Linked DNA regions of Homo sapiens: region 1 is linked to region 2. Evidence: fine-mapped expression QTL. A gene starts in region 2. The other region holds a variant in brackets. All regions are shown on one strand. Distances are between the middles of the regions.

Region 1 (15,425 bases), 900 kb before region 2:
GCAGGCTTTTTACTAAAATAGAAAAGAGGCTCTTACTGCCTGCAGGAAGTTTGAAATTGAATGGAGGAATTGGAGGCAAATAGATTGAATCATATTGAAAGAGGTACAAAGTCATCTTCTCACAGGTGAACTTTCTTCTAGAAACACGTTAATAATCCACTTGACAAATTGCTTTCAGTCGCAATTCTGTGCTATTTATCACCATCATGACCAGTCTCTCTTGGTTTAGTTTAGTCTGGTAGTAGTTTAACGAGTAAGAACTATTTTGAAGGTAGATTAATAATTTGAAAAGTAAGTTATCATGTTGAAAGAATGAAATGTAATTCCAAAGTGAAATACAACCAACGGAATGATCATGGGGCAGTTCTTCCCTCTGACTGTGAATTGAGCTAAACGCATGTCAGGTATGAAGAATGCTAGAGTGATGCATGGCCCAGCTAGAAATAGAGGCAAATGCATGCAATTGAGATTTCCAAACTCTCCTCTCCACTTTTCCATTACCACCTTCTGGACTTGTTTTCCATTTATTAAATATAATCATTAAGTGAGTCCCTTCCTTCCTTCCTTCCTTCTTTCCTTCCTTTTTGACAGAGCTTTGCTCTGTCGCCAGGCTGGAGTGTAGTGGCGTGATCTCTGCTCACTGCAACCTCCGACTCCCTGGTTCAAGCAATTTTCCTGCCTCAGCCTCATGAGTAGCTGGGATTACAGGTGTGTACCACCACGCCTGGCTAATTTTTGTATTTTTAGTAGACACGGGGTTTCACCATGTTGGCCAGGTTGGTCTCGATCTCCTGACCTTGTGATCCGCCCACCTCGGCCTCCCAAAGTGCTGGGATTACAGTCGTGAGCCAATGCACCCAGCCATTTGTGCTTTCTCTGTTTTGGGTGACCATATAAATTATGATCCAAACTGTGACATTTCTGAAACAGACAGGGGTACTAATCAAAGGGGACATTAGGACAATACATAATAGACCTGCAGTGTTCTGGGCAGATCAGGTTGTGAGGTCATGCCACCTTCAGTCCTTGTTTTAGGCATCATAAACATGCCCATTGCTTTAACTCTCAGCTCTTTGAAGATGACTCCTAAATGCATGTCTTATATCAAGCTCAACTCTTTTTGATACTACTAACCTACTCAAAAACTTACAAAGGTTCCCCATTGCCATACTGTGTCATTCAAGACTCTCTTAGATAACCCAGATGATATTTCCAAAAGCAAATTCATTCCTCTGCACTCCCTGAGGCATAACTTAGAGTCATTCAATCAAACTGAATTGACTCATTATTTCATAATTTAACTATTTATTGCCCAGAAGTGTATTGTTTCCTCTACCTAGAATTTACTCTTCCATCTCCTATTTCTATTTTTATTCACATGAAATTAATTTTAATTTTTAAGCATCTCCTTGAATTCTAGATACGTAACTTTTTTTTGATATGACTTCTCCAACATGAGCAAACAAGAATGAGTTCTCTACCTCTCTTAAATTTGATTATAATTTTTACATTACTACTTCACCTGTGTTTTCTTTTACTGGTGTTTTATACTAATGTATGAAATTTGTTAACTTTTATGCAAAATTATAGCCTCTTTGAGAACTATAGATTTCATCTTATGTATTACTGTTTCCATAGTAGCTTGTTTTGGTTGGGGTTGTAGCAGATATTCAGTAAAAATATATTGATCGCCCAAGCGCAAGAAAGAGAGAGAGATCAACTTACAAAACAGCCATAACCTTGAATTATAGGTGCATCATTAGGAGTGCATCATTTTACTGGAATTAATAGTAATTATTTGCGACATTATTTGTTGTGATTTTTTTTTCTGTTCTGTATAAATAACTGAATTATGTGACTTTGGTTTTTGAAATGGTTCATGACCAGATCTAGAAACAAATCCTCCTTCTGTCATCCAAAGGTAGGCTTTCAATATTTCTTAGACCCTGAGGAAAAGTATACTCATTCATGTAGACAAAAATTTTTCATGACTGAAGCTTAAGTTTTTATATTTCTTTAGAGTTAGGTAAGTGTTTTATGTGACTCAGAAAATGGCTAAAACTACAAAATTAAATTATATTAAATTAAAATTAAATTATAAAGACTTGTCAATTTATAAAAAGTAACTCATTCAAAATATAGAACAAAATTTTATCTTCCACATAAAATATATTCCTAAAATCCTCTCATTTTAAATTGTTTATCTGAGTGAATTTTTCCAAATTTGTAAGGGTTTCAAATTCATTTTGTGAAGTTATCCAATGTTTAATTTTATCTTTCAGAGGTGAAAAGTTTCTATTGGAGCCACATTAAATTTTAAAGTTTCTCAGCTTATATCACACCTTTTAGGGTACTGCATGTAAAGTTGTACTCAAATAAATATCTGTTGCATAAATCCAGTTTTGCTTTTTCTCCAAAATTCTTACCTGGAGCATAAATTGCTGTTGTCTGACGCTAGAATTAGAAGTTTGTGCAGATTTAGTATTAAACCTCTGTCTGTAGTGGCTCATTAAGATTGCTTTTCAGTATTTGCAAAATTATACAATCTCAAAGAACTATGTTCTCTCTAGAGAGTAAAACTTTATTTTAGCAAGTCACTTCAAAGCATCTCATGGAATTCCTACAGAAAAATGATGATATATGGACTGTCCGTGGCATGAAAATAGGGCTCCAAACTTGGAGTAGATTCTTGTTTGTTTGAATGAATGTTTCCTGGCATGTGGAGTTTATCAGCCTGTCACACAAGAAAGACTCAGGGTAGCATTCCACTCTTCCCATTTACCGGCTGTGTGGCATCTGTGATGGGCTCACTGTCCCCTCAAAATTCAGATATTGAAGTTCTAACCCCTAGTACTTCAGAATACAGCCTATTTTGGAGATACAGTCTTAAATTGCACAATAAAGTTTAATTCAAGTCTTTAGGATGGGCCTTAATCCAATCTGACTGGTGTCTTTATAAGAAGAAGAAATTTGTACACCAGAAATGTCCTTGCACAGAGGAAAGATCTTGTAAAGAGACAGAGGGAGAGTGGACATCTGCAAGCCAAAGAGAGGGGCCTCAGAGGGAACCTACCTTGCCAACCTCTTGATCTTGGACTTCCACCATCCAGAGCTGTGCTGACATAACCTGCTTTTGTTTAGGCCGCCCAGTCTCTGGTACTTCGTTACGGTAGCCCCAGCAAAGGAACATGGCCTCTGACTCTCCACCACCATTGGTTGGCTCAACAGACACAGCCTCCTGCTCCCCACCTTAATGGGACTGACAGCTCCATGAAGTCCCTCAGGCCCCTCTGGAGAGCCCATCGTCTCATTGCCAGAGAGGCCACCTGGATAGTGTAGCTCATAGACTGCTCTGCTTCCCCACGTCCCAGACGAAGGGCTCTTCTATGCATGGCCTTATTTCTCATCTCACTAACAATATGGAAGAGCAGATCTCAAATGTAATGCAAGGCATGGGAAAAGTTTAACATGGAGAAAATGTGACATTTGATTCTGCTTTTATCATTATATAAAGTGGACAGAGTCCTTTTCATGACGATTTGGAGGCTGCTTGGAATGCTGAGAAGTGCTTCTCCCCCTGTGCTGATGTATCACCTCCCAGCATGGCTCAGTAGCAGAATACCAAGGAATCCATCCAAAGGATTCCCTTGATCTCCACCTCAGTGTCTTCCAGGCCAAGCTGCTGTGCCAGCACTGTAATGAGAGGGACTGGCCCCATAACACCGTGGGGGGACAACCCAATTGGCTTTGTGAGACAGAAGTGATCCACTGATGGGGAAATCCCATTTGTGATGTTTCTCACTATCTCTGTGTAACACGGTTCATGAAGGCAAGGCAGCCATGCTTATTTTGTTCTTTGAAATTCCTTCATGACACTCATTAGAACATTCTGCACAAAAAACACAGTTTAAATCCTGGCTACATATTCACCTTGGGGTGTGTACAGGGTAAGTAATGAGTCAATGACTAGAAATTCCCTACCCTCTGTTCAACTTTTAAAAATTATTTTAATTTAGGTACAGTTGTATACTATTTTAGTATACGTTTTTTTATTTTCAAAGTGCTTTTTTTTTTTTTTTTGAGATGGAGTCTCGCTCTTGTCGCCCAGGCTGTAATGCAGTGGCATGACCTCAGCTCACTGCAACCTCTGCCTCCCGGGTGCAAGAGATTCTCCCACCTCAGCCTCCCAAGTAGCTGGGATTACAGGCAACCACCAGCATGCCTGGCTAAATTTTGTATTTTTAGTAGAGACAGGGTTTCTCCATTTTGGCCAGGCTGGTCTTGAACTCCAGACCTCATGTGATCCACCTGCCTCAGCCTCCCAAAGTGCTGGGATTACAGGTGTGAGTCACTGTGCCCAGCCCTACTTCAACATGTCCTTTATCTCTGTTGCCATTCACTGAGCATGTATTTATGGAAGGCTGAGATACACCTGATGCTACTTCTTAGATATTTTAGCTTATTTTTAAGGTACTCTAGTCTGTTCACCTATTATGAAAACTGAATGCTGTCCTTAGGGATCTTACAGTCTAGTACAGGTGAGAATTCATGCATATAAATAAGTATAACAAAAACTACGGAATCCAGGGGTTTGCTTTGGACAAGTCGAACACACATTTTCACTGTTGCCTTTTTCTATATTCAAAAACCAGCAGGAAAGAGGGCCCCGCTAAAAATAAGATCATCACAAACAGGAAAGTGTTATTTCCCATTTTCTTTCAGTGCCTTGTATTATAAGGGAGTAGGATCTGGGGGTAGATGCTTATGTAACACAACACCTTAATGCATTTTCTCCTGTGCTAATGTTATGTCTGGAACCTGTCAGGGATAAGCAGCAGAAAAAAATTGCTTAGCAGGAGAAAATAACAGAAATGTGGAGGCTGAGGATTGATTGGTACCTAGAAAGGGGCAAAGAAATTCTCCCCTCAACAGTGAAAACTGAAGGCTTTGGTGATGAACGAGGACTAGGATAAATGATCTCTTGCAGGTAAATCGCCCAGGAATTTCTAGGACTGCAGTATTCCAATTTCAGCAGTTAGTGGAAGATTCACATTCAGAAACCCTTCTTATTAAATCAAAGTTTCGAAAAATCTTTTCTGGTACTCTGTCTTCTTAGTAGTGGGCCTTTTGAGGAATGAAGGAATATGAGATCTAGTATATTGGGACATTGTACAGAAAAAGACCACAGCAGGCATTAGAAATGAGACAAAGTAAGGATCAGTAATGTAGGGACAATGGAAAACCATAATAGAAGGAAAGAGTTTTTATCCAAAATATGTAATGTATATCCCAGTCCCCAGCTCAAACCCTTACAAAGACTCTCAGAGGTAGTGGAAGTAAAAATAGATTTCCCTCTAATTATGAAACAAGGGTCTCTCAAGACATGGAACCTTGTTATGAGAGTGGAGGACAACCCAGCTGCTTTTGGGGAAAGGTGAGATGTGAAAATGAGTATCTGGCTTACAGTCAGAAGTGACCTCAGAGAGACTGAAACTGAGCTGAGGGTCTATTCAAGTAGGGAAGGACTGAAGTAGGCAGTTAATAGTGTGTTCTCAGGGATCGTGAGCTGTGGATGCTGCCACACGCGACATTCACTCGAAATCTTCATTCCTTTTCGGAAATATTATTCTCATCTATTTTTTAAAACTCATTTTTTCCAGTTAAGATACTTATTTTTCTCTGGCATTGTTGCCAACTGTTATAATTTCATCAGCTTCAATCTATGTAAAATATTTTCTTCTTCATAGACA[C/T]ATAGACAACAAGTTATTTTGTCCCAAATGGACAAATGCAGATAACAAAGTTTCAAAATTCAATATTATATAAATATTGTAATCAGCGAGTCGTGCACATAGTTCGTTGCATCGGTTATTTGGCTTCTCCGTTCTGGCGTTGCTGTTGTTGTTGTTGTTTGTTGTTGTTGTTTTTGACGGAGTCTCGCTCTGCCGCCCAGGCTGGAGTGCGGTGGCGGGATCTCGGCTCACTGCAACCTCCGCCTCCCGGGTTCCCGCCATTCTCCTGCCTCAGCCTCCCGAGTAGCTGGGACCCGCCACCACGCCCGGCTAATTTTTTGTATTTTTAGTAGAGACGGGGTTTCACGGTGTTAGCCAGGATGGTCTCGATCTCCTGACCTCGTGATCCGCCCGCCTCGGCCTCCCAAAGTGCTGGGATTACAGGCGTGAGCCCCCGCGCCTGACCCATTCTGGCTTTTTTACCTGGTCTTCATATTTACATAAGTTAGGATTGCCTAGAAGGGACTGAAGCCACTGACCACATTTAGCACAGTAGAATATATATGGCCAAATATAATGAAGACAAATATATAAAAACAGGCATTATTTGGGTACTTCAGAGAAAGGGGCTCTGTCAACATCAAAGTATTGTCCAGTGTTATTCTCTCAGCATCTCCATATGTCCTTGTACTTTCCCATATGACAAGGATCCTTAAAAAAAATCAGTCTCCAATAAGTGTAGATGTAGTTCATGAGTAACTTTATGATCTTATAAAATATTTTAGTTCCTACTATTGGCAGGCCTTATGTCGTGTCTATATTTCCTCTGCACGACATACACAATACTCAGAGATAGATGCTATCACACTTATATTTTACTTATAAGGAAATAGAAGCACTGAAAGGCTAAGTCACTTGCCCAAGCTGTCACCTAGCGAAGAGTGGATTCATACTTGAACACAGGTAGTCTAACTGCCCAGTTCACATTTTTATCCGCCATCCTTGGTAGCCAGAGAAGTATGCATTATTACACATTTATTTTCAGAAGCAATGCTGTCCATCCATATCGTTGCATGCACACTGATCAAGTGCGTGTCACTGTTCTCTGGACTGGTGATCTAAAGATGGGTCCTGGTCACACAGCGGGGCACTCTCTACCCTTTCTCCTAAGCAGTTATTCTGGTCAAGACAATCAACTCTGCTCCTACTAAAAGGCTGACTCGGGAGACTCAGTGGCTCAGTAAGAGAGCATGTGCCTCACCTAAAGGCAAAATGGTTCAGGAATGTGTCTGCTTCTATGCATATTAACTAGTTGCAGCATGAACTGGAACATTTATTAATTAATTGCAGTTCTTAAAGTGGATAGGTTTTTGCCCTACTACTGATGTCCTTCCCTTTACTAACTTTGCCCCTGGGAAGGGAGAGTGATGGCCTTACTGAAAAATTTCAGAAAACTGAATACTCTGTTCAGCCCTCTCATCCATTCTTTGCTAAGTGAATTGCTGCTTGATGCCGGGCTGGGCTGTTTATTTAGAAACTGCACTCCTTGGGAGATGGAGGGCTTCTGGGATGGGAAGGGGGAAGCCCGTTTAGCTCTGAGATTCAGTGTTAGCAAAACAATGTGGCCAATAGGCCTCTATTGCATCCTCCCACGTGGTCTCATCTCGCTCAGTCCATGGAGCAGAAAAGAAGGTATTTTTGTTTAGGGTGCCATATACAAACACAATCACTAATTAGATAAAATTCTATTCTCCAACAGGAAGCAAACAAGTTGTGAGTATCCAGGCCATTATTATCTAGGAAACCATGTAAACATACTCTAATAGTTGTCACTGTGAAATAAATATATGTGTGTGTGTCTTAGGTTATGCTGCCACGCGTAGACTGCCTACAGTCTTAGGCTATGCTGCCCCGCGTAGACTGCCTACAGTCTTAGGCTATGCTGCCCCGCGTAGACTGCCTACAGTCTTAGGCTATGCTGCCCCGCGTAGACTGCCTACAGTCTTAGGCTATGCTGCCCCGCGTAGACTGCCTACAGTCTTAGGCTATGCTGCCCCGCGTAGACTGCCTACAGTCTTAGGCTATGCTGCCCCGCGTAGACTGCCTACAGTCTTAGGTTATGCTGCCACGTGTAGACTGTCTACAGTGCTTGGCTGGGTCAGGGCACTGGGCTGCCAATAACTGAAAGAGATTTAGGCTAATTGGAGAAAAGCAATTTATTGAAAAGCTTCACGGAATTCGCAGAATGAATGGAAGGCTGCCCAGAGCAGGTATAAGAATGACAGGAATCCAGAAGTTGCAGAAAGACTAGAAGCAGGTATCAGGAAGGAAAACGGCCGTCTTCAAGCCAAAGCGGCCCGGACTGGAGGCTGAGCGCCTAACGCAGTGAGTGCCACCAGCGGGATGGGGAACTTCTGGCCGTTCTGTGAATTCTTGCAGCGCTTGCTCTAGATGCGAAGGCACGCGCGTATTTCCTGAGGGATTCTGGAACGCGGAGAGGAAGGTCTCGATCCTTGACTTTGTATGGAAGGCGGTACTTCCAAGTTTTCCTCCATTTCCTCTATACGCAATGGGGCGACCATCACTGCTCAAAGAGACAGAGACACCATTGGAGAGAAAGAGCAGGAGATGGGAAAACACCATAGACGCCATCTATTGCTCTGGACATAAAAAGCCCCTGGTCTGGCAGGTGTTGCAGCTTTTCAAATTATAGTACACATAGTCCAAAAGAATAGTGCACACTGAAAATGTCCTAGGCAAGGAAGGGAAGGAAATGCCGGTGGAGCCTGGAATAACTGGATAGAGGTTAACAGAGGATGTCAGGAGCGGGTGGACCTTGAAGGATGGTAGGAGCTGAGTAACTGGAGAATGAGGTGGGCACGATCCAGGGAGAGGGGTGTGTGGGCGTGTGGAGACGGGCAGGGGACGGGTGTGCAGAGTGGAGGTGGGCACTGGAAGGGGCTGCGGGCTCCTCATCCCGCACCGTGACAGATCAGCTGGGAGCCCTCCACGGGGAGCTGCCTGTGGAAACCCGCGTCTTCCGCAAGGAGGATTTTGATTTATTGGTTTAAAGGAAGCCAGTGCAGGCTCCTGAGCATCCGTGTCCCAGTGGCCCAACATCCCGCTTGTTTGACGTTTAAGATCAGAACAGCAGAGGCTGCTCAGAGGCCTGAGAACCTCGGATGTCATTAGTTTTCCTTCCAGCTACTGTTAAGAGGCTCCCTTGTACCTAGTATTTCTTTGTCTTTGGAAATCTTATTTATGCTTCTCTTTGTTTCCTATTTTCCTTCCAATTTAAACAAAAAAAATCTATTTTCCCCACATTTAAAATGATTTTTTAAAAATGCTTTGTTCCATCATATCATGAGAAACAAACTTATTTTGATTTTTTCCTAATGCAAACTAGTTTTAATTTGGAGTTGGGAAATATCTTTGCTACCAGAGGCAATAACAGCATGAGCAAGTCAGCCGCGACACCTCTGGGCACCCTAAGGTTTGAACAAACACTAAGTTGTGAATCCACCTTGGATGTGAGTGTATTTAAGTACAACTTTCTTATTTTAGTTTTAAAATAAGCATTTATTTTCTCGCCTGCCTTACTTTATGAAACATTTTTTACAGCTTATCTTTCTTTAAAATCTTTGATACATTTGGCTGATTTTGTTCTAGGTGAGGATCAATATGGATCTATGAACTTAAAAAAAAAAGGGAGAGAGATGTGGAGTTAAAACAACAACAAAAACATCACTCTTCAGTGGCTGCCACAACTCCTGCTTCTGCTTTCCCATTCGCTGCCAAGGACAGGCAACCTCAGCGATGTACCGAGTGAGACGCTGGGCAGGCGTGAAAGGTACAGTGGGAACGCTGGGACCGATGGTGTGGGGAAGGACAGGAATGAACCGTGCCTCCAATGAAGAGAGCACCGTCGCACGCCTGCCCCTTTGCAGTGTGACGTTGCTGTTGTGACATTGCTGTTCCTATAACCAGCAGGTGAGGTGTGTTCTTCAGCTCCTTGAAACCAGGCAGACCTTTTGATATGCTGAGACCAGTAGCATGTGGTGGAAGGGCCATGTGGAGAAGAGTCAGGTGCCTCAAACAACAGACAGCACAGACTGCCAGAGGAGCGAGTGAAGCCAGCCCGGACGCTCTACTTACTGCAAGCCATCAGGTCACTGCAGCTGCATGTGTGAACCCAAGTTAGACCAGCAGGACTGCCTGGATTGCCAGTGCGTAAAATTATGCAAAAGAACCAATGATTGCTGTTTTATGCCACGATTTTGGAGGACCTTGTAACAAGAACAATAAATAACTGACACAGGTGTTCAAGGCTGCAGTGAGCTATAACTGCACCACCGCAGTCCAACCTGGGTGACAGAGCAAGGGAGCCTGTCTCAAAAAAATAAAATAAATTACTGACATATGCTTATTATTTTTAAAATAATTTTCTTTTGACTTAATTCTTCAGTTCAGCTTGCTTATATGGATAATATCAAAATGAATCACTTTAATTTTCTACTATGGATTATAGTTAAGAGCTTGTCAAAAATAGACCAGATACCTCTACAACAGCAGCATTTATTCAGGTCATGGTACCTGCATGGGCAACTGAGATCCATCGTCTGGTCCCAGGTTTTGTATGTCAGGTTACAGGACGGATTCACAACATTCAATCTCACAAAACATTAACGTTCTATTTAGAATGGTCCATTTCTTAAAAATTAAAGTAATGCTGCAACGTAGGCAAGATTTTTCATCTCTTCAGCAGAAAACCCTGACCTATGTTGGTAACCTAAATGAAAAGTGAAAATATTTCGAGATATAAATGATAATTTGGATGCTATTATACTATCACAGGATCCTGATGCCCCTTATCAGTGATAAACAATGGAACCTGATAGTGCATCCCAGCAGATAGGACCTCTTCCACACTGCACAGTGTTAGAGATGCAACGAGAGGCTCCAGGCCAGGTGCAGTGGCTCAAACCTGTAATCTCAGCAGTTTGGGAGGCTGAGGTGGGTGGATTGCTTTAGGCCAGGAGCTTGAGATGGGCGTGGCCAACATAGTGAAACCCCGTCTCTACTAAAAATACAAAACTTGGCCCAGTGTAGTGGCACGCGCCTGTAGTCCCAGTGACTCAGGAAGCTGAGGCACAAGAATCGCTTGAACCCAGGAGGCAGAATCTATAGTGAGCCGTGATCATGCCACTGCACTCCAGCCTGGGCAACAGAATGAGACTCCATTTCAAAAAAAAAAAAAAAAATAGACTCTAGTGCTGGTATTCTAATTTCTAAGACTCCATATGGAAATATGGAAATACCTGTTGAGAGACACCAGCATTATATCACGCTGACATCATTGCATTGTGATCCGTTTTTCCTGGCTCTGCACTCTTGATGGAGACTTGAGAAAACTCGCTGGCAGCACATTTCTCAACATTCATATTTTTGCTTAGGTTAGTACTTTACCAATCTTATCCCCAAATTGTGGCAGATCACTCTGTCCCTACTATGTCTCCAGGAAAGCAGCAGAAATCTCTCAGCCATTTTTATATCTTTGGCACATCTTCAAAGTTGATATAATTATTTGCATTCTTTCTGATTACGTGAAAACCGAGGCCTTATTTGTTATATTAAGAGTTCAAGTTCCTTAATAGTAATACTTTGGCTCATTGTTTTCTTATGAAAATATAGCTATAACATCATTTTAAAAGAGATGGGACTTAGAAAGATTCCGCTCTACTGATTTTACAGCTGTTTGGTGCAATACATAATTACTGGGTAGCTTTACTCCAGTGGGAAAATGATGCTCCAGATACTGCATTAAGCATTTTTCCTCACAATGAATGCCTAGTTTACTTTTGCACATTCTCAAATTTATATACTTCTCCCTCTTCTATTCCCATCAATAAGGCCTTTCCAGCAACTCTCCTCCTACTCCCTTTACCAAAACAAACACAAATAAATAAAATAATCAGTCAAAAGGAGGCAGGCATGAGGGTACTTTGTCAGTATTGTTATCACCTGGAGTATTAGTAAACTGCCTCAGTGGTGTGCGAGATTTCTTTCAAACCTTTGTATTTTTAAGTGGGACATGTAATTATATCACGAAAATGAGAACGGAAACAAAATTAAAGTTTTATGCTATCATTATTAATCATTCTAGTCATAATATTTAATTTTCTGTCCCCTATGACATGTATAATAACTAAGGAAATATGCCCCATTTAAAGGATTGAAGCCAGTATCCTCCATCATTTGAGGGGAATTTCCAGCCAAAATGTTTGATTGGCACTCATGAGGACAGGTGCGACCCTGCACCTGGGTCACTAGTTAATTCCTCTGGATACTTGTTTGGGTCAAAATGAGCTCAAGTGAGTAACAGGCACAAAGCCTTCGCTTTCTGTCTCGACCCAACAAGGACCTGTACAGAAGATGAGTTTTCTCATCAGCCCATTCCCAAGTATCCCACATATTCAATGAGCCAGCAGGTCATCTCCTGTTCAGCAGTTGAAAATCACCTCCGATTCAGCTGACACACAGGAAGTCCATCAATGTCCATTAGCCCAGAACAAGCGTGTCGGTCACAGCAGCTGTCAGTCTAGGCCAAAGAGGTCCTGTCAGGGCCATTGTTATTTTTGTCCTGAAGTTAGGTATGAAAGTTATGGTCATGGCAGGTTTTAATTATTTGTGTCAACAAAGACAATGGACAGTCACCCAAACTCAATAACTCTGTATTTTAAAAGCTGTAAAGAAAAGCACATGTGATAAGCTTATCAATATTTCTGATATATTATTCAGGTACTTTGGTCCTTGTGTGTCTCTGATTAGGTGTCGGCTTTTAGATTAGATGGATTGGATTGATTATGGCTTTTGAAAATTGTTATTTATATTTAGATATCTCTATATTGGACACGTAGTTGTTTGGAGAAATGAGTCTAATACCCATGTTGAAAGCAGAAACGGGATATAACGTTTTTGTTCTGTTTCTATGATCTTTTTATGAACAAGAATGTTACGCCAACTCTATTTTTTTGGAGATAAATGGGTATATGAAAATAACACCTTCAGCACGTATTGCCTAACACTCATTTGTAATTATCACGTATAATGCCTGGTTGATTACGGTTTTAACGTCTTTGCATATTGTAAGCCCCCAATGATGCTGTGACCTACTTGGATGCAGAGCCTCTTTCACTGTGTCATTATGCCTCCAATAATACAACTAACATGAATAGTAAAGAGCAATAAATAGATAGCTCCCATCCATTGAGCTCTTAGTTGCTCGTGGCTTAATGCTAAACACTTCCCATATGTATCTTAACCCTGAAAATCATTCCATGAGGCAGCAATTATTTGTGTCTTTACAGACAATGGAACAGAAGTGTATGTAATTACTAACTTGCTTATGCTTATATTTTGCTAAAAGAAAAGGTTCTCTCCCCCTTTTAGGTGCATTTGCAAGGCAGCTCTTCGGAACAAGGCACAGGCGTTCTATTTTTTTATTATTAGTAGCAGCAGCAACTGCTGCAACAGCAGTAGCCTTAGTAGCAGTTTGCTGTTTATAATCTCCTTTCTCAATTGGATTGTTTGCATCTTGAGGTCCTCTTGCTCATATTTGTATTCTTAACATCCATGAGCCACCTCTCAGGTACCACTAATACAATGTCGAGGAATAAATGGGGAGAATTGTTATGATCTTGAGCCTCGCTCCTAGAGGATCACTTCTCTGTAAGAGGGATGTGTAATTCAGGACTCCCCAGATGGGAAACCAGTATGTGTGGAAATATTATAAAGAGGTTTCACTGTAGCGTACGTTGTAATAATTTACAACATTTGTTCAAATGCATATCCTACATGGTACAGCAATTACACAGGTAATAAATCTTGTATCTGAAAACACAGAACACATGATACCCAGCCTTTTCATGCACACTTGATTTCTCCTGATTTATTAATAACTTTCTCGTGTTTAAGTGACTGTCCTTATTACGCATTGCTTTGTTTCTCACTGTGGCATGACCTTAGCTCGACAGTTGCTAAAATTCTCCCAGGAGACTTTTTAATGCTACATTTGCTTAGAAGACATGTTCTGCCTTGTGGCTAATGATATAGTTGCGTGGTAAGAAAGAAGGATGAAAGCAGAAACACACAGACAGGACATTGAGAAGCGGATTAACAACAAATACAAAGGAGGGAAACGAAAACCAATTCATTCTCTTTTTTTGCACATAGTTTTAAGCATATCATGACATTTCGAAAGTAGGAAACATCCCTACAAAGCTGGATCAAACACGATACTAACCCCAACACCACAGTTCTTCAAGTGGCAGGTGGTAAACTATAACACACCATTAACACTTTGTAAAATGTTACTTAAAATACAAATGATAAAGGGACCAAAGGCCCTGGCGTTCTCAGTTTAACTGACTTGTTTACCTTTATAGTTTAGTCACATGATATTGTTTTTACCAATGAATGTAAGTTCTCATCTTCATTTCACGCTCAATCTGTTTTTAACGATTGTGTTTGTTCACAGAAGCTTCTTCACTGGGAAAGTGAAATGCCATAGAGACCACATAACTGTGGCAATGGTAGCATATGACGTTGAATAAATGCTAAGTGCTGACTTATTTTTGCCACTAAATAATTTGATTTTTTTCTGTTAGTTCTATTTAATTACTGAGGCAGGTGACATACGCAGATATATTTTTCATAATTAACCTTATGGCAAAAGTGAAAGTGAATCTGTTTCTATAAGTGCTGATAAAAACAGGACTTTTAAAGATTTGAGTAGTTTGAGTTGCAGTGGTTCATTAAACTCTCTTTGTGAATGGAATAAGTGTTATTTATCACTCCCAAGCATCTAATACTTAAAGATTTGTTAACTCTCCTTACTTTAACTAACATATATTAATTCTAATTCCCAAAATAACATTTTTAGGAGCAGATGCTATTATTCCTATTCCTTGGGAGAGGAAACACAGGGCCAGAATAGTTCAGTGACTTGCCCAGAACATCAGTAAAATAAACATTATAACTTAAGATTTGAACCCAAGTCTTCCTATGGCTAAAGACCATTCTCTTTCCAATACATCATTCTACCTCCTAGTTTATAGTAAATTGGAGCAACCAAGTCTGTTTCAACTTATTTCTAATAGGTAAGTATGCTCTTCAATACGTTCTAAAACAATTAGCCACTATCCATAAATAATCACAGTTGGAATAGATAACTAAACAAACAAAAAGTCTCTTTTCTCTCATCGTAGGTGCCAACATGGTTACGATAGGCCCATCAAATGTGTAACTTACTTCTCAAAACTCTACAGATATCTCATAATATCATGTGAGTTGTGCACAGCCGACTATTTCCATCTCAGAGCTTACAATAACTAGTACTTACTTCAGGTTACAGGAAAATGACTGGTCAGCTGAAAGCTCAAACTACACAACTTCCATTTTTCATGTACTGGGATGTAGGGTGTAATGAAAACTCACCAGCCAAACTAAGCATAAATATAACAGACTAATATACACCAAAGAAACTTCCTCCTGGCACACTTTATAGAAACTCCATTGTCATTAAAAATTAGCACTGGACAAAATAAGTAATATTGCGTATGTAACCATATGTCAGCGTGCAGTTATAGACAACAGTTTCTCTTGTGTCATTCAAATAGGTTTTTATGTGTAGTCAGT
Region 2 (15,425 bases):
TGTGGGTGGAATGGGCGTCGCTCTGTTCACAGGACATCTTTAGAGCTCCGAGCTGTGCGTCCACATAGGGACACCCTTGGTTGTTCGCATCATATTAGCCATGGGAGGTTCTGGTTCTTCAGTTTGGGTGGGAGAGAAAATAGCACTTATCTTTGGCTGAACTTCTAATGTGCCAAACATTTTCTGTACATTATCTCATTTAATCACTGCAAGCATTCTTTTCTATAATTTTTACAAAAAAGAAAACAGGTTCAGGAAGGTTAGGAAACTTCACCAAGATTACACGGTTACTGAGTGTTCAAATCACAAATCACAATCCCTAATCAGCCTTTTTCATTATGTCATGACAAATGCAGCTTCCTGTGAGTTCAGTGCAGCACCCAGGGACCATGTGATGAAGCACACATAGTCTGTGAACCGACAGTCACATATGGGGCCTCCTTTTATTTTTTTATTTTTTTCCTGAGACAGTTTTGCTCTTGTTGCCCAGCCTGGACTGCAATGACGCGATCTTGACTCACTGCAACCTCGTCTCCCAGGTTCAAGTGATTCTCTTGCCTCAGCCTCCCGAGTAGTAGTCTTGTCCACCACCACGCCCGGCTAGTTTTTTGTATTTTTAGTAGAGATGGGGTTTCATCATGCTGGCCAGGCTGGTCTCAAACTCCCGACCTCGGGTGATCCACCCACCTCAGTCTCCCAAAGTGCTGGGATTACAGGCATGAGCCACCATGCCTGGCTGAGGATTCCAACTTCCACTCACTGTCCAGACAAGATCAGGTACCCCAGTCATTCCATTTCTGACTTTTTTTTTTTTTTTTTTTTTTTTTTTTTTTTTTTGAGACGGAGTCTCGCTCTGTCGCCCAGGCTGGAATGCAATGGCGCCATCTCTGCTCACTGCAACCTCCACCTCCTGGGTTCAAGTGATTCTCCTGCCTAGGCCTCCCGAGTAGCTGGGATTACAGGTGCCCACCATCACTCCCAGCTAATTTTTTTTTGTATTTTTAGCAGAGACGCAGTTTCACCATGTTGGCCAGGCTGGTCTCGAACTCCTGACCCCAAGTGATCTGCCCGCCTTGGCCTCCCAAAGTGCTGGGATTACAAGCGTGAGCCACCGCACCCGGCCCCAATCATACCATTTCATACTTTTATTTATAGACCAGATCCCACCATAACTAATTATCTGTGTGATTAATGCCTTCCTCCTCAATTTCATTGAAAATTCTACAAAAGGAAAGGCAAAATCTGCCTTACTTATCATTGTAAGTAAGCGCAGAGCCCAGTAGCATAGTGCCGGGGCCCATGGCAGGGCTTTATTCAGCACTCTGGAGTTCAAAGCTCATTAGGCCTCTTCCTCTGAAGGTCAGATTGTCCACAAGATAAAAGCTGAGAACTAATCCTGACGTCTCTCAGTGTTGGCTGGACTAAACATCTGGAGCATTCTACAAGGACAGTTCGTTGAATGCACCCTCACTGGGATTTTAGAATTTAAGTCAGCTTTCATCCTAACGGGATCAGAGCTAGAAATGTAGACGCCCCTGCATGAGGGGGGCGTGTCTGCACGTGCAAGGGGGGGATGGAAAAGACAATGACAAAACCAACAAAGAAAGGACTAGGATTGGCTGGGCGCAGTGGCTCACGCCTGTAATCCCAGCACTTTGGGAGGCCGAGGCGGGCGGATCACGAGGTCAGGAGATCGAGACCATCCTGGCTAACACAGTGAAACCCCGTCTGTACTAAAAATACAAAAAATTACCCAGGCGTGGTGGCGGGCGCCTGTAGTCCCAGCTACTCGGGAGGCTGAGGCAGGAGAATGGCGTGAACCCGGGAAGCGGAGCTTGCAGTGAGCCGAGATCGCGCCCCTGCGCTCCAGCCCGGGACACGGAGTGAGACTCCGTCTCAAAGAAAAAAAAAAAAAGACCCTTTAGACAGAAAACAAAGCCAGATAAAGCCTGAGTCAAGTCTCACTGCTTCTCTCTGCTCACGCTCAGAGACGGTCTGTGGCCCCAGCCCTCCCTGGTGTTCCGTGCTGGCCCGGATTCCTTAACCAGGAGCCTCGTGTCAGATCGTGAATGTCTGACACTGGAAGAAGGTATGCTGAAGTTAATTCTTCGAGCCCCGGAGGGGTAACAAATCAGGCTGACTTACTGCTGAATTTTCTTAGCATCTCCTTCATTCCCGTGATGCGGCACAGACTCAGCTCTGTGGTGGTGGCCTCTGGACACTGAAGCAAGAGTGGCTCGCTCCTGCAAGAGAGCAGAGAGGTTCACTCCTCGGCACAGACCGCGTGACCTGCTCCAGCTGGAGAGTCCACCTCATTTCTCCCCCAGCAACAGCGCAGACCTCCTATCCCCACTCAGAACTGTCCATCAGCACCACTGCCCCGCAGCTTGCATAACTGAACACAGAATGAAAGCCTACCTTTCCAGGGCTCCTCTCACTTCCTACGGGTAAAAAAGAAAGAAGTTAGCATGGTGCGCTTTGATCATAACACAGACGAAATTCATTTTGCATACAGTCCTTGCAAAGCTCACAGAATCTGCTTCCCATGAAGCACACCATGAGTGGGAGCACAGAGAGCAGAGAAAAGCGTCCCCAGTTTCTTCCAGGGATGTGCTGTGGTGAACACAAGGTGTTTCTCACAATGACTAGAGAATACTTTGTCCTTTTCTTTTTCTCGTATCATCACCTTGTCCAGGGAACCTGTTCTGCAAACAAGCCAACCTGTTAGTCTCGATCATCCAGTGAGAGGCAGAGATAACAAAGGAAAATGGGCTGGTGAGAACTGAGGCTAACCAAGCCTGTGTCAGGTCGGGGTGGTGTGTTTGGAAGGCACTAAATTAAATAGTAGCACTCTGTGGAACCAGTCTACAAAACAGACCTGAAGCTGGAGTTGGATCACATGGCTTATGTTTAAGAAAGTCCACGGCCGGGTGCCGGTGGCTCTCGCCTGTAATCCCAGCCTTTTGGGAGGCCAAGGTGGATGGATCACAAGGTCAAGAGATAGAGACCATCCTGGCCAACATTGTGAAACCCCGTCTCTACTAAAAATACAAAACTTAGCTGGGCATGGTGGCACACGCCTGTAATCCCAGCTACTTGGGAGGCTGAGGCAAGAGAATTGCTTGAACCCAGGAGGCGTAGATTGCAGTGAGCCAAGATTGCACCACTGCACTCCAGCCTGGGCGACAGTGCGAGACTCTGTCTCAAAAAAAAAAAAAAAGGTCCTGAAGAATGCAGCAGCCTAGAAGGGCAGTAGACCAAAGGTGGTGAGAAATAGGAGCTCCCTGCACAGAACAGGAGGGCTCTCCTGTCTATTAACTATCAGGCGGGCAGATCTCGTTAGTACCACAGGTATGAATAATTAAATCAGTGCCGCTATTAACCCATCCTGTAGATGACAGTCATCTAGACCTAGAGTTCATATCATAATGGTACTTATCTTCATCAGGTCTTTGTGAAGATTAAATTTAATGTGCCCAGCACATAGTAAATACACATTAATAAACTAGAAAAAAAAATTAACAAAGCTGAGGTTGCAGAGAGGCAGGTACAGAAGAAATTGAAGCCACTCTCAGGCTTGTTTGGGATAGTTATTCCTCTGGATGTGTTTTTTTTTTTCTCTCTCTCTCTCTTCTATAAGGCTTTATTGACATATAGAATGTCAATTCTTTAGGAAAACTACTTTTGGACCAGAACTTAGTTTTTAAGATGAATAAAGAAAACATTATTTCCTATGGCTTGAAGTACTATGAGTTACTATAATTTTTCCCATTACTCTCATGAATGTTATTCTCACCTCAAGAGATTCGAAAGCCGAGCTTTGACTTGAGGACTCAATCTGTGCGATCATTTTGCTTAGGCTTCTGATTTGCTGGGTCAGTTTGATCTCATTGTTCCTCAGCTTCCTCATGTTCTCTTTCTCTTCCTGTTCTAGTAGCTGGAGTTGCAGCTGCTCCTCTTCCTTCAGGAACTGGTGCATTTTCATGTATTCTGACACAACAACCTGTTTACAAGTCTTTGTTTCTTCCTGCCAAAACACACACACACACACACACACACACACACACACACGAGATAAAGTTAGTAAGAGAAATGCCCTTGTCTGTAGATTTTTAATCCTTACAAGTCCTAGAGTTTCTTTCTTTCTTTTTTTTTTTTTTTTTGAGATGGAGTCTCACTCTGTCGCCAGTCTGAAGTGCAGTGGCGCAATCTCGGCTCACTGCAACCTCTGCCTCCTGAGTTCAAATGATTCTCCTGCCTCAGCCTCCTGAGTAGCTGGGACTATAGTCTAGGAGTGTGCCACCACGCCCAGCTAATTTTTGTATTTTTAGTAAAGATGGGGTTTCACCATGTTGGTCAGGATTGTCTCAAGTCTCTTGACCGGGTGACCCACCCTCCTCAGCCTCCCAAAGTGCTGGGATTACAGGTGTGGGCCACCATGCCTGGCCAAGTCCTAGAGTTTCATGGCAACAATTCCTGAAATCCAACATATAATACATTTAATCTGTTGATGCGCTGGGTGTAGAGGTTGATGTTTTCGGAGGTATGTGCGCTATAGATACAATAGTAAACAAAACCAAAATCTCCATTCCCAGGAGGCGGTCGTTCTAGTGGAGAAAACCAAAAATGAGTAAGAAATATGACAAGTAGTGATCAGGACTATGATACAAATAAAACAAAATTAAGAAAAATTATGAAAAATGTGTGTTCATTTATTCAACAAATATTTATTCAATGAAAGTAGGTGTCAGATAACCAAAAAGGAACAGAAACATACATGGCAAATACTCTCACTTAAGAATTCAAAGTCTACGGCCAAGCACGGTGGCTCACACCTGTAATCCCAGCACTTTGGGAGACCGAGACAGGTGGATTACCTGAGGTCGGGAGTTCGAGATCAGCCTGGCTAACATGGTAAAACCCCATCTCCACAAATATACAAAATTAGCTGGGCATGGTGGCACACGTCTGTAATCCCAGCTACTCAGAAGGCTGAGGCAGGAGAATCACTTGAACCCGGGAGGTGGAGGTTGCAGTGAGCCGGGATCGCGCCACTGCACTCCAGCCTGGGCGACAGAGAGAGACTCCATCTCCAAAAAAAAAAAAAAAAAAACAGATTTCAAAGTCTATTGGGAGAATCAGATACATGGTTTTAAAAAATATATAATTTGATATTTAGTCCTTTGCTTTGACTGCTGGAGAGCTCAAATCCAAGTCCGTGACCAACCTTGAGGACTTGTCAGGTATCATTTAAACCACTATTTTGCTTTTATATCTCTGTCTCTTTATTTTTTTTAATTTGCATTTTCCCCTCCATGTTTTTGAGATATTTCTTTTTAAAATCGCTTTCCGTCTCATGTTACATGTCTATAAGTATCACTTGTGTTTTAAATAATTCTACCAGAGCCATCATAGAGGAAGCCACAGCGTTGTCTAGTTATGCAAAGGAGGCTCCTAGAGGGGGCGAATTGCAGCTGAGCCTTGAGACTCCCACGAGGACGCTCAGAAGAAGGCAGCCCAATGCAAGGAAACTGCATATTTTAGAGGTGAGACTGGAAAAATTTGTCTTTTTTTTTTCCTGATATTTCACTAAATTTCCCTTTAGTCCCCCTTATGGGGTCATATACAAGCAGCAAAAGTCAGACAGACACCGACCTGGCACAGTTTCACTCTCTCCTTCTCATGGGTTAGTACAGCCTGAGCTTCCTTTCTCCTTACACGCAAAAGATTCAGGATTTCCTGGAGTTTCTCCTGCAATAGAAACAAACCCTTTCTGGCAAATGAGCAGAGTCCCAGGTCATGAAGGGGCTTTGAAGACCAGTAACTGCGCAGTCCTAGGCCTCTAAAACAAAGGGCAGGCTGGGTGCGGCGCCTCACGCCTGTAATCCCAGCACTTTGGGAGGCCGAGGCAGGCGGATCACCTGAGGTCAGGAGTTCAAGACCAGCCTGGCCAACATGGTGAAACCCCGTCTCTATTAAAAATACAAAAAATTAGCCGGGCGTGGTGGTGGGTGACTGTAGTCCCAGCTACTGGGGAGGCTGAGGCAGGAGAATGGCGTGAACCTGGGAGGCGGAGGTTGCAGTGACTGAGATCGCACTGCTGCACTCCAGCCTGGGCAACAGAGCAAAACTCTGTCTCAAAAACAAAAAAAGGGAAAAAAAAGGGTGTAAACTGGACCCACGCCAGTTTGTGATGTGGTGCTCAGATGGGCCCTCGTGACTGTCCCCCACAGAGGACGTTAGGAAACGTCAGGAAAGCTAACGGAGTTAGCTGCGATGAGTCGTGGGGTTCATGCTGAGCAGCTGTCTTACTCTGTGATGCTCCTCAGCCTCGCTGGAGAGATGCACTCTGTTTGCACCATGGCTCTGGGCTACGAAGGCGCTTCCACCCTGCTCGTCATCGGAGAGCGCCTTGGCAGTGGTGGGCATCCTCCCGTAGCTGCCCTGCTCATCCTCGCTCTGCAGCACCTGGGACCGGAGCTGCCTGGCGATGCTGGCCAGCCTCCCCAGACGCTCGTTTGACTGGAAATGCGGGCCCTCCAAGGTCCTCCAGCACTCAGGACAAGATAAAGGTGTGTTATGTTCCTCCCAGCTCCTGAGGAGACACACCAGACAAAAGCTGTGCCCACACTCGGTGGTCACTGGGCTGCTGAAATAGTCTAAGCAGATGAAACAGGTGAGTTCCTCCCTGAGGTTCTCCATCAGATCTGCTGTAGACATTTTCTCGAGGCTGGATATGCAGCCAGGTTACACCTCTGTTCTGGGATTAGCAAAGCCCTCACTGCCGTCCTACAGTTTTGAGTAACACGCGGGTGACCTGTTCCTATGTTGTTATGACAAGAAACCCTTATCTCTTCTGTGCCTGATTTCACCAGCTGACATACACTGTCCAACACAAAGCCAATTATGACTTAATGTGGAACTCCTGTATACTGGGCTCCTCACCAACCCCAAACTTTGAGACTTATCTCTGTGAAAAGCACACATGCTAGAGGCTGAGGATTCTGGCTTCTAACAGGATTACCATTTTGAGAACTGGTTATTGTACATAAACAGCACTGTGGAACCATGTGAGCATGTGGGTTTTAGGCTGGAAGCTTGGGTGATTTGGTGTAAACCAGTAAAGAGATTTGAGTTTTGATGATCTCTAATAATATCTGAATTGGAAATTTGGTCCAAATCTTTTGGGAACTCCACTAATAAAACCTAGTTGAGAACTGAGAGAAGAAAACTGTAATACATAGTCCTTTTCTCATTAGCCCCTTTTGTTCTGCTTGACCAAAGCCTAAGCTTTTGTTCCTTTATTGGGTACTGTGTACTTTTATTTAATTTTATTCATCCCAACAAAATGAGAGCTCTTCCACTGAAGTATTCCTTGGTGTTAGGCGCACGATGAATTGCCAGAGCTGTTTATTGATCTTCCCTGCACACCCTAGTACTCACCCATCTGCCATCTTGGAAAGCATCTAAAATGACATTCTAATTGGAAGTTGCCTCAAGAGGCTATCCCACTATGGAGCAGATGGAAAGAATTATATTTTAGTATAAATGTAATTTTGCTCACTTATTTTCACCCATTGAAAATTTCCAAACTAGGCCCCTTCAAATCCCTGATTATCAGTTCTTACTGGACAGAAATGAAGTGTGCAGACATTTTTTCGGACATATGAAAAAGTAAATGCCTAGTGTGGAGACTGTGCACAGTGAACTCCGAGATTGGTAACAAATGCCACAAATTCACTGTGTCCCCTGCTCGGGAGTCAGCTCCTGTCCTGGCCTGCCTTCTGCTCACTGCATGCCAGGAAGTTGCACCTCAAAAGCTCTTCCTCAAAGGCCAGCGAGTTTGACCTTCCCACGAACTCATCACGCCATATTTCTGTCTCCGTCCCCTCACTCTCCAGCTTGGCAGCCTTCCACGAGTCGGGTCCATTACTCAGGCTGTTCCGTTCATTGGTTTCTGACTTTCAAGGCTCCAACTGCTACTTCTTTCCCACTTACCTCCAACAGGATGTTGGATGTTTTCTTATCTTGAACTTTGGGAAAAAGAAGTTTTCTGGCTGAGAATGTTTTTTCCTCCACCTTCCTTTCTCCTAGTCAAAACTCACCTTTCTGAAATCATTAATTCAAAATGTTTCAATCCTATACATCCCTTGTAAAGCATACGTGAATTGCTAGGATGAGAATTTAAGCTATGAAAAAATAAGAGCAAAGAGTTATACTACTGTAAAGAGGAAGAGAGGTGGCATCAGGGTGGCATCATGAAACCTCTACCAAGATAGCCTCCAGGATACTAACTTGTCACAGCTTCAGAATATTGCTATGAGTTAGTCTTGTAAGAGTCTTAAAAAAAAAAAGAAAAAAAGTTTGGCCAGGCGCGGTTGCTCACATCTGTAATCCCAGCAGTTTGGGAGGCCGAGGTGGGTGGATCACTTGAGGTCAGGAGTTTAAGACCAGCCTGGCCAACATGGTGAAACTCCGTCTCTACTAAAAATATGAAAATTAGGCCGGGTGCAGTGGTTCATGCCTGTAATCCCAGCACTTTGGGAGGCTGAGGCAGGCAGATCACTTGAGGTCGGGAGTTCGAGACCAGCCTGGCCAACATGGAGAAACTCCGTCTCTACTAAAAATACAAAATTAGCCGGGCATGGTGGCACATGCCTGTAATCCCAGCTAGTCAGGAGGCTGAGACAGAAGAATTGCTTGAACCCAGGAGGTGGAGGTTGCAGTGAGGTGAGATCACGCCATTGCACTCCAGCCTGGGCAACAAAAGCGAAACTCTGTCTCAAAAAAAAAAAAAAAAAAAGTAAAAATAGCTGGGTGTGGTGTTGCACGCCTGTAATCCCAGCTACTTGGGAGGCTGAGGCAGGAGAATCACTTGAACCCAAGAGGTGGAGGTTGCAGTGAGCCAAGATCCCACCACTGCACTCCAGCTTGGGAGACAGAGAAAGATCCCATCTCAAAAAAAAAAAAAAAAAAAAAAAAAGACTACAATAACACTAACTGCCACCACTAGAAAAAGAATTTATGAACTACCATCTCCATTCAGTGTGTTATTTCAACACAACCCCAGGAGGAGTCTTTAACATTTACCAAAATCATTAGAATAAGCCTCACAATACAGTTATAGCACATCACAGAGCCAGTATTCCAATTTGGAATAGGGAGGCTGGCATAGTCTCTGTTCAAGTCACACTGATCTGCTCTATCCCGTTTCCCTCTTCCAGATAATTTTTTTTATTTTATAGGCATCGTAACACAATAACCACGTGTTATTCATTGATGACTACAAGAATTCTTTGCACGTGGCTCGATTTTTCTGTTAATGAGTTATAAATGAATAGAGGAACTATATTATTATGGAATCATAGTCTTATATTTAGCTGGAAGTCAAGAGATCATATAGTCCAACTACCTTCTACAGATGCTGAGGAAAACTGAGGCTAGAATAAATTAAATTCATCTCCTGATACTCACTTACCACATACGCCGGATTAGGACTAGGAAACTGGAGCGCCTACCTCCCAGTCTTTCTCTTTTGTCAACACACTATACTGCATCCACTTGTTGACTTGTGAGTGGGTGAAAATTTCCAGTTATCTCAATAAAATGAACATTGCAGGCCAGGCGCGGTGGCTCACACCTGTAATCCCAGCATTTTGGGAGGCCAAGGCAGGTGGATCACGAGGTCCGGAGATCTAGACCATCCTGGCTAACACGGTGAAACCCCATCTCTACTAAAAAAATACAAAAAATTAGCCGGATGTGGTGGTGGGAACCTGTAGTCCCAGCTACTAGGGAGACTAAGACAGGAGAATGGCGTGAACCCGGGAGGCGGAGCTTGCAGAGAGCCGAGATCGCTCCACTGCACTCCAGCCTGGGAGACAGAGCAAGACTCCATCTCAAAAAAAAAAATGAACATTGTCCAATTGCTGTGAGAAGGAAGTCAGACAGCTGTCATTATGGAGTGATGGTGTGACAGGCATCTGAAATCACTGACCACATTCACTCTTGGGAAGGCAGACTTCCTTACCATCTTTCTCAACATTTTGCTTGGGCTTAATTCATAGATGAAATGCATTCATAGAATAGACCAGCCTTCCCAAAATATATGACCCAATCACACTACCAGACACGGCTTCTGAGATCAACAACTCAAGTAGCTTCTTCTCTGGCCTTTCTCTCCTGAGAGGGTGATGCTAGGAGTACTCCAAGAGGGTCACTGTCACAACTATCACCCAGATGCCATCAGGGTTGGCACATGCAGAAAAAAATGAACTTTATAGATACAGTAAGGGCTTATTTGTTGATGAGGCGGTGGACTAGTTGGGAGCTTATTTGAAAAATACATTGCTTGAAAGCCTAGCTTTAAAAATAAAGTTAGCCAGGCCCAGTGGCTTACCCCAGTAATCCCAGCACTTTGGGAGGCCAAGGCAGGTGGATCACCTGAGGTCAGGAGTTCAAGACCAGCCTGGCCAATATGGTGAAACCCTGTCTCTACAAAAATACAAAAATTAGCCGGGCGTGATGGCGGGTGCCTGTAATCCCAGCTACTCGGCGCTGAGGCACGAGAATCACTTGAACCCAGGAGACGAAGCCAGCAGTGAGACATGATCACCGGTGCACTCCAGCCTGGGCACAGAGCGAGATTAAAAAAATACAATTGACCCTTGAGCAATGCAGGGGTTACAGGTGCTGACCCCTTGCACAGTCAAAAATACACTTTAACTTTCCTAGAACATTAACTACTAATAGTCTACTGTTGACCAAGCCTTATCAATAACAGAAACAGTCAATTAATATATTTTTTTGTTACATGTATTATTTTATTCTTATCAAATAAGCTAGAGAAAAGAAAATGTTATTACGAGAAAATCTATTCACTAAGTGAAAGCGGATCCTCATAAAGGTCTTCACCCTTGTCGTTACCACTTTGAGTAGGCTGAGGAGGAGGAGGTGGGGGTGGGAGGGCTGGTCTCGCTGTCTCAGGGGTGGCAGAGGCCAGATAGGTAGAGGAAGTGGAAGGCTGAGCAGGAGAGGCAGGCATTCTTGGTGTCACTTTTATTGAGAAAAATCCGTGTATAAGTGTCCATGTTGAGGAGTTCAAACCCAGGTTGTTCAAGGGTCCTCTGTATATCTGTCATTTCATGCCAGTCTGGAAAAGATAGGTTACTCAACACACAGTTTAGGGAAAGTCAGGGAGTCATCTGGAAAAATAAATTCAGTTGATCTCTACCCAGCAACTTATACCGAAGTATATTCCAGGTAGATAAATACAGGATATATGTGTGTGTGCGTGGGCAGGGGGGAGTGTGTCTATTTTTTCCCAAGTATGAATTTCTACTCATATGTTTCCTTTTTTATTGCTTTTTTCACCTTATTTATATATTTCTAGGAAAGAGAATTTGCAACAGTTGTCAAATATATACTCTGAAATTATGGAGCAGTCTTACATGAATGTATACTTAAAATAATAGCTTTTATTACTATTATTTTTTTTTTGAGACGGAATCTTGCTCTGTCGCCCAGGCTGGAGTGCAGTGGCGTGATCTCAGCTCACTGCAACCTCCGGCTCCCAGGCTCAAGCGATTATCATGTCTCAGCCTCCCGAGTAACTGGGGATTACAGATGTGCACCACCATGCCTGGCTAATTTTTGTATTTTTAGCAGAGATGGAGTTTCACCACGTTGGCCAGGCTGGTCTCAAACTCCTGACCTCAAGTGATCCACCTGTCATGGCCTCGCAAAGCGCTGAAACTATAGGCGTGAGCCATCACACCAGGCCAAAATAATAGCCCTTCATCTTACTACATAGACATTTTTTAAAAAGCAGATCTGTTTACATACATTAACATGATATGACATCCATTATATGACATTAAGGGGAAATAAATTTTTGCCCTCAAAAATAGTTTGTCTAAATAATAAAAATTATATTCCACTATTTGTGTATTTTTCCTAAAAATAAGAGGTCATGCTATAGATGTTGACATATGTATTTGTGTAGATGAAAGCACAGAAGAAGTATGGAATTTCATGACTGTGACACTAAAAGCATGGTCAAAAAAAGCAACAACAGACAAAGGGAACTACATCAAGCCAAAAAGCTCCTGCACAGCAGAGGAAACGATCGACAGCGTGAAGATGCATATTCTGCGGAACGAAAGAAAATGCAGTGGCCCCTCAGCGTCTGCAGGAGACTCATTCCAGGACCTCCTGCAGATACCAAAATTCAGGGATACTCCAGTCCCGGAAAAAAAATGACATAATATTTGCATTAACCCTGCACATCCTCCTGTATACTTATAAATCATCTCTAGATTACATGTAATACCTAATACAATGTAAATGCTATGTAAATCGATGTTATACTGTGTTGTTTAGAGAATGACCCAAAAAAGCCTACATTTGCAGACTTTCACATTTATTATTTATTTTTAAGTATTAAAGTATTTTTAATGCTCTTGCTTTTTTCCCCCACACTCTGCATGTGGCATCCAAATAGTTAACATTCTAAATACAAAAAAACTTCAAAAATAGAAAACTTAGAGGTTTTGGCAGACTGTAGAACCTGACGAAGTGGGAGTCGGGCTGGAGGTGAGGGTGAGCAGAGAGCCAATCACAATAGGCTTCTGTGTTACGCCAAGTTTTGAAATTCTTTCTGTAATCGATGGGAATTGCTAGAGATTTTAGGCACAGGAGTGATAAAATTATAAAATATTATATAACATTTTCAGAAGATCAAAGAACCACACATGTGAAAGAAATACAAATAACATGAACACCCCAGCTTTTTCTTTATAAATGAGAAATTAGGAAAAAATAAAGGAAAATCTCTACCATCATGGAATTTATATTTTAGTAAGGAGAAGCATAAGATCAAAAACAGATATATATTAAGTAGTTATAAGTGCTAGAAAGAACAATTTTTAAACAAGGTAAGGAACATAATTTTTTTTTTTTGAGACAGGGTCTCAGTTTGTCACCCAGGCTGGAATGCAGTGGTGCAATCATAGCTCATTGTAGCTTCAGGCCCCCAGGGCTGCAGTGATCCTCCCACCTCAGCCTTTTGAGTTGCTGGGACAACAAGTGCACACCACCATGCCTGTATAGTTTTTATTTATTTTATTTTATTTGTAGAGATATGTTCTTTGTATGTTGCCCAGGCTGACCTCAGGCTCCTGGCCTGAAGCCATCCTCCCACCTCCGCCTCCCAAAGTGCTAGGATTACAGGTGTGACCCACCATGACTGGCCCCATAATGAGTCTTTTAAAAAATATTTTTGATCCACGGTTGATTGAATCAACAGATGCAGATCCCATAGATTTGGAGGGCTGACTCTGTTTGCAAATCACATGTCAGATAAGGGGTTAATTCCCAAGATATATAAGGAACTTCTATAACTGAATAGCAAAAAAACTAATAGCCAGATAACAATATGGACCAAAGAGTCAGATATTTCTCCAAAGAAGACATAGAAAGGCTAACAGGTATATGAAAAGATGCTCAATATCACTAATCATCAGGGAAATGCAAATCTACAATCACAAAGAGAGCACCTCTCACCTGTTACATGGCTATTATCAAAAAACAGAAAACAAACAAAAAACAGACAACAAAAGTTGGGGAGGATGTGAAGAAATTGGAACCCCGTTGGTGGAAATCCAAAATAGGGGCAATTGCTATGAGATGAGGGACCAGGCATGGTGACTCATGCCATAATCCCAGCACTTTGGAAGGTCAAGGTAGGAGGATTGCTTGAGAGCAGGAATTCAGCCTGGGCAACATAGCCAGACCCTTCTCTACAAAAAAACTTCTTTTTAAATTAGCCAGGCGTAGTGGTCCATGCTTGTGGTCCTTAGTCCAGCTGAGGTGGGAGGATCATTTGAGCCCAAGATGTCAAGGCTGCAGTGAGCTGTGATAGTGCCACTGCAATCCAGCCTGGGCAACAGAGTAAGACCCCGTCTCAAAACAATTTAAAAAATAGCGGAGATGAGGAAACAATTAAATGTCCATCGAGGAATGAATGGATAAAGAAAATGAGATCTACACATACCAATACATATATTGAATGCACTATATTGAATATACTCTCTTGAATATACTATACATATTCAAGTCAGTCTTGAAAAGGAAGGCCTGTCATATGCTACAGCATGGATGGACCTTGAGGACATTATACTAAATGAAATAAGTCAAGCACAGAGAACAAATACCACATGATTCCCCTTCTACAAGTTACCTGACATAGTCAAACTCAGAAGCAGAAAGTAGAAGGGTGGTTTCCAGGGACTGGGGGAGGGAAAAGTGAGAAGGTGCTAAACTGAGTTGGGGAGGCCAGGCACGGTGGCTCATACCCATAATCCTAGCACTTTGGGAGGCCAAGGTGGGCGGATCACTTGGGGGATCACTTGAGGTCAGGAGTTCGAAACCAGCCTGGCCAACGTGGAGAAACCCCGCCTCTACCAAAAATAATTTTTAAATTAGCCAGGCGTGGTGGTGAGCATCTGTAATCCCAGCTACTTGGGAGTCTGAGGCAGGAGAATCGCTTGAACCCAGGAGGCGGAATCGTGCCATTACACTCCAGCCTGGGCGACAAGAGTGAGACTCCATCTCAAAAAAAATAAAAAAATTAAAATTAAAAAATAAAACGAAGAGTGGGGGAACAGTTTGAAACCAAGGGTTTGAGACCAGCCTGGGCAACATAGAGAAACCCTGTCTCTAAATATAAATATATATATATATATATATATATATTTAGCTAGGAGTGGTGATGTGTGCCTATAGTCCCAGCTACTTGGGAGGCTGAGGTATGAGGATCTCTTGAGCTCAGGAATTCAAGGCTGCAGTGAGCTATGATTGTCACTTCATTCCACCCTGGGTGACAGAGCAAGACCCTGTCTCCAAATACACACACAGACACACACACACACATATACCTTCTAAATAATTTGTCAGCAGTTTTTTCAGTAAAGAAATATTGGAGAATAGAGTAGGAGCTAAGAAATGTGAGGTGTGACTTGGAGTAAGCCAATTAATGAAGCAATTTTCCTCAGCTTTAAGGATAAAATTGTCTCTGAAGATTGGTTTCAGCTGTGATATAATAAAATTTTTTAATAGTTTGCAACTTCAATGGCAGCTTTTATTTATTTAACGATTAGATATTGCGCCTCTATTATATAGAGAGCAATGAGCTCAGTGCTGAAAGTGACTAAAAATTATTTCTCTTCTTTGGGAGCAGAAGATATACGTGCAAAAGAAGAAGAAAAATCTACGAAATGAAAAGACGTGTGCCCTGAGAGTGGTAGAATTTAAATTAATTAACTGCTTTGGCATTTTAGTGGCGGGAACATGACATTCTTGCTGGAACAATTAGAAAAAACTTCCGGGAGAAATGGTATTCGATCTGGACCTTTACGGACTAACAC

Direction of the effects. Positions count from the first base shown, and alleles are read on the strand shown. Sizes are in standard deviations (SD) of each study's normalised expression.
For the expression in monocytes after interferon gamma of the gene that starts at base 6,838 in region 2, C is the low allele of the variant in region 1 and T is the other (small effect, 0.39 SD a copy in Fairfax 2014).

Evidence for each region. PIP is the estimated chance that this variant, and not a neighbour inherited with it, causes the effect.
Region 1: its variant is fine-mapped to the expression of TRIML1 in monocytes after interferon gamma (Fairfax 2014, PIP 0.94).

What each region holds. Positions count from the first base shown.
Region 1 is chr4:189,028,508-189,043,932 of GRCh38, reverse strand. No RefSeq gene overlaps it. Among named protein-coding and RNA genes, the nearest start is that of LINC02508, 260 kb to the right of the region's middle. The variant C/T (reference allele first, on the strand shown) is at 5,751.
Region 2 is chr4:188,130,854-188,146,278 of GRCh38, reverse strand. TRIML1 (tripartite motif family like 1) reads right to left here and starts at 6,838. Exons shown (of 6, transcript NM_178556.5): 1 at 6,313-6,838; 2 at 5,656-5,751; 3 at 3,797-4,027; 4 at 2,419-2,441; 5 at 2,146-2,243. The coding sequence starts at 6,720.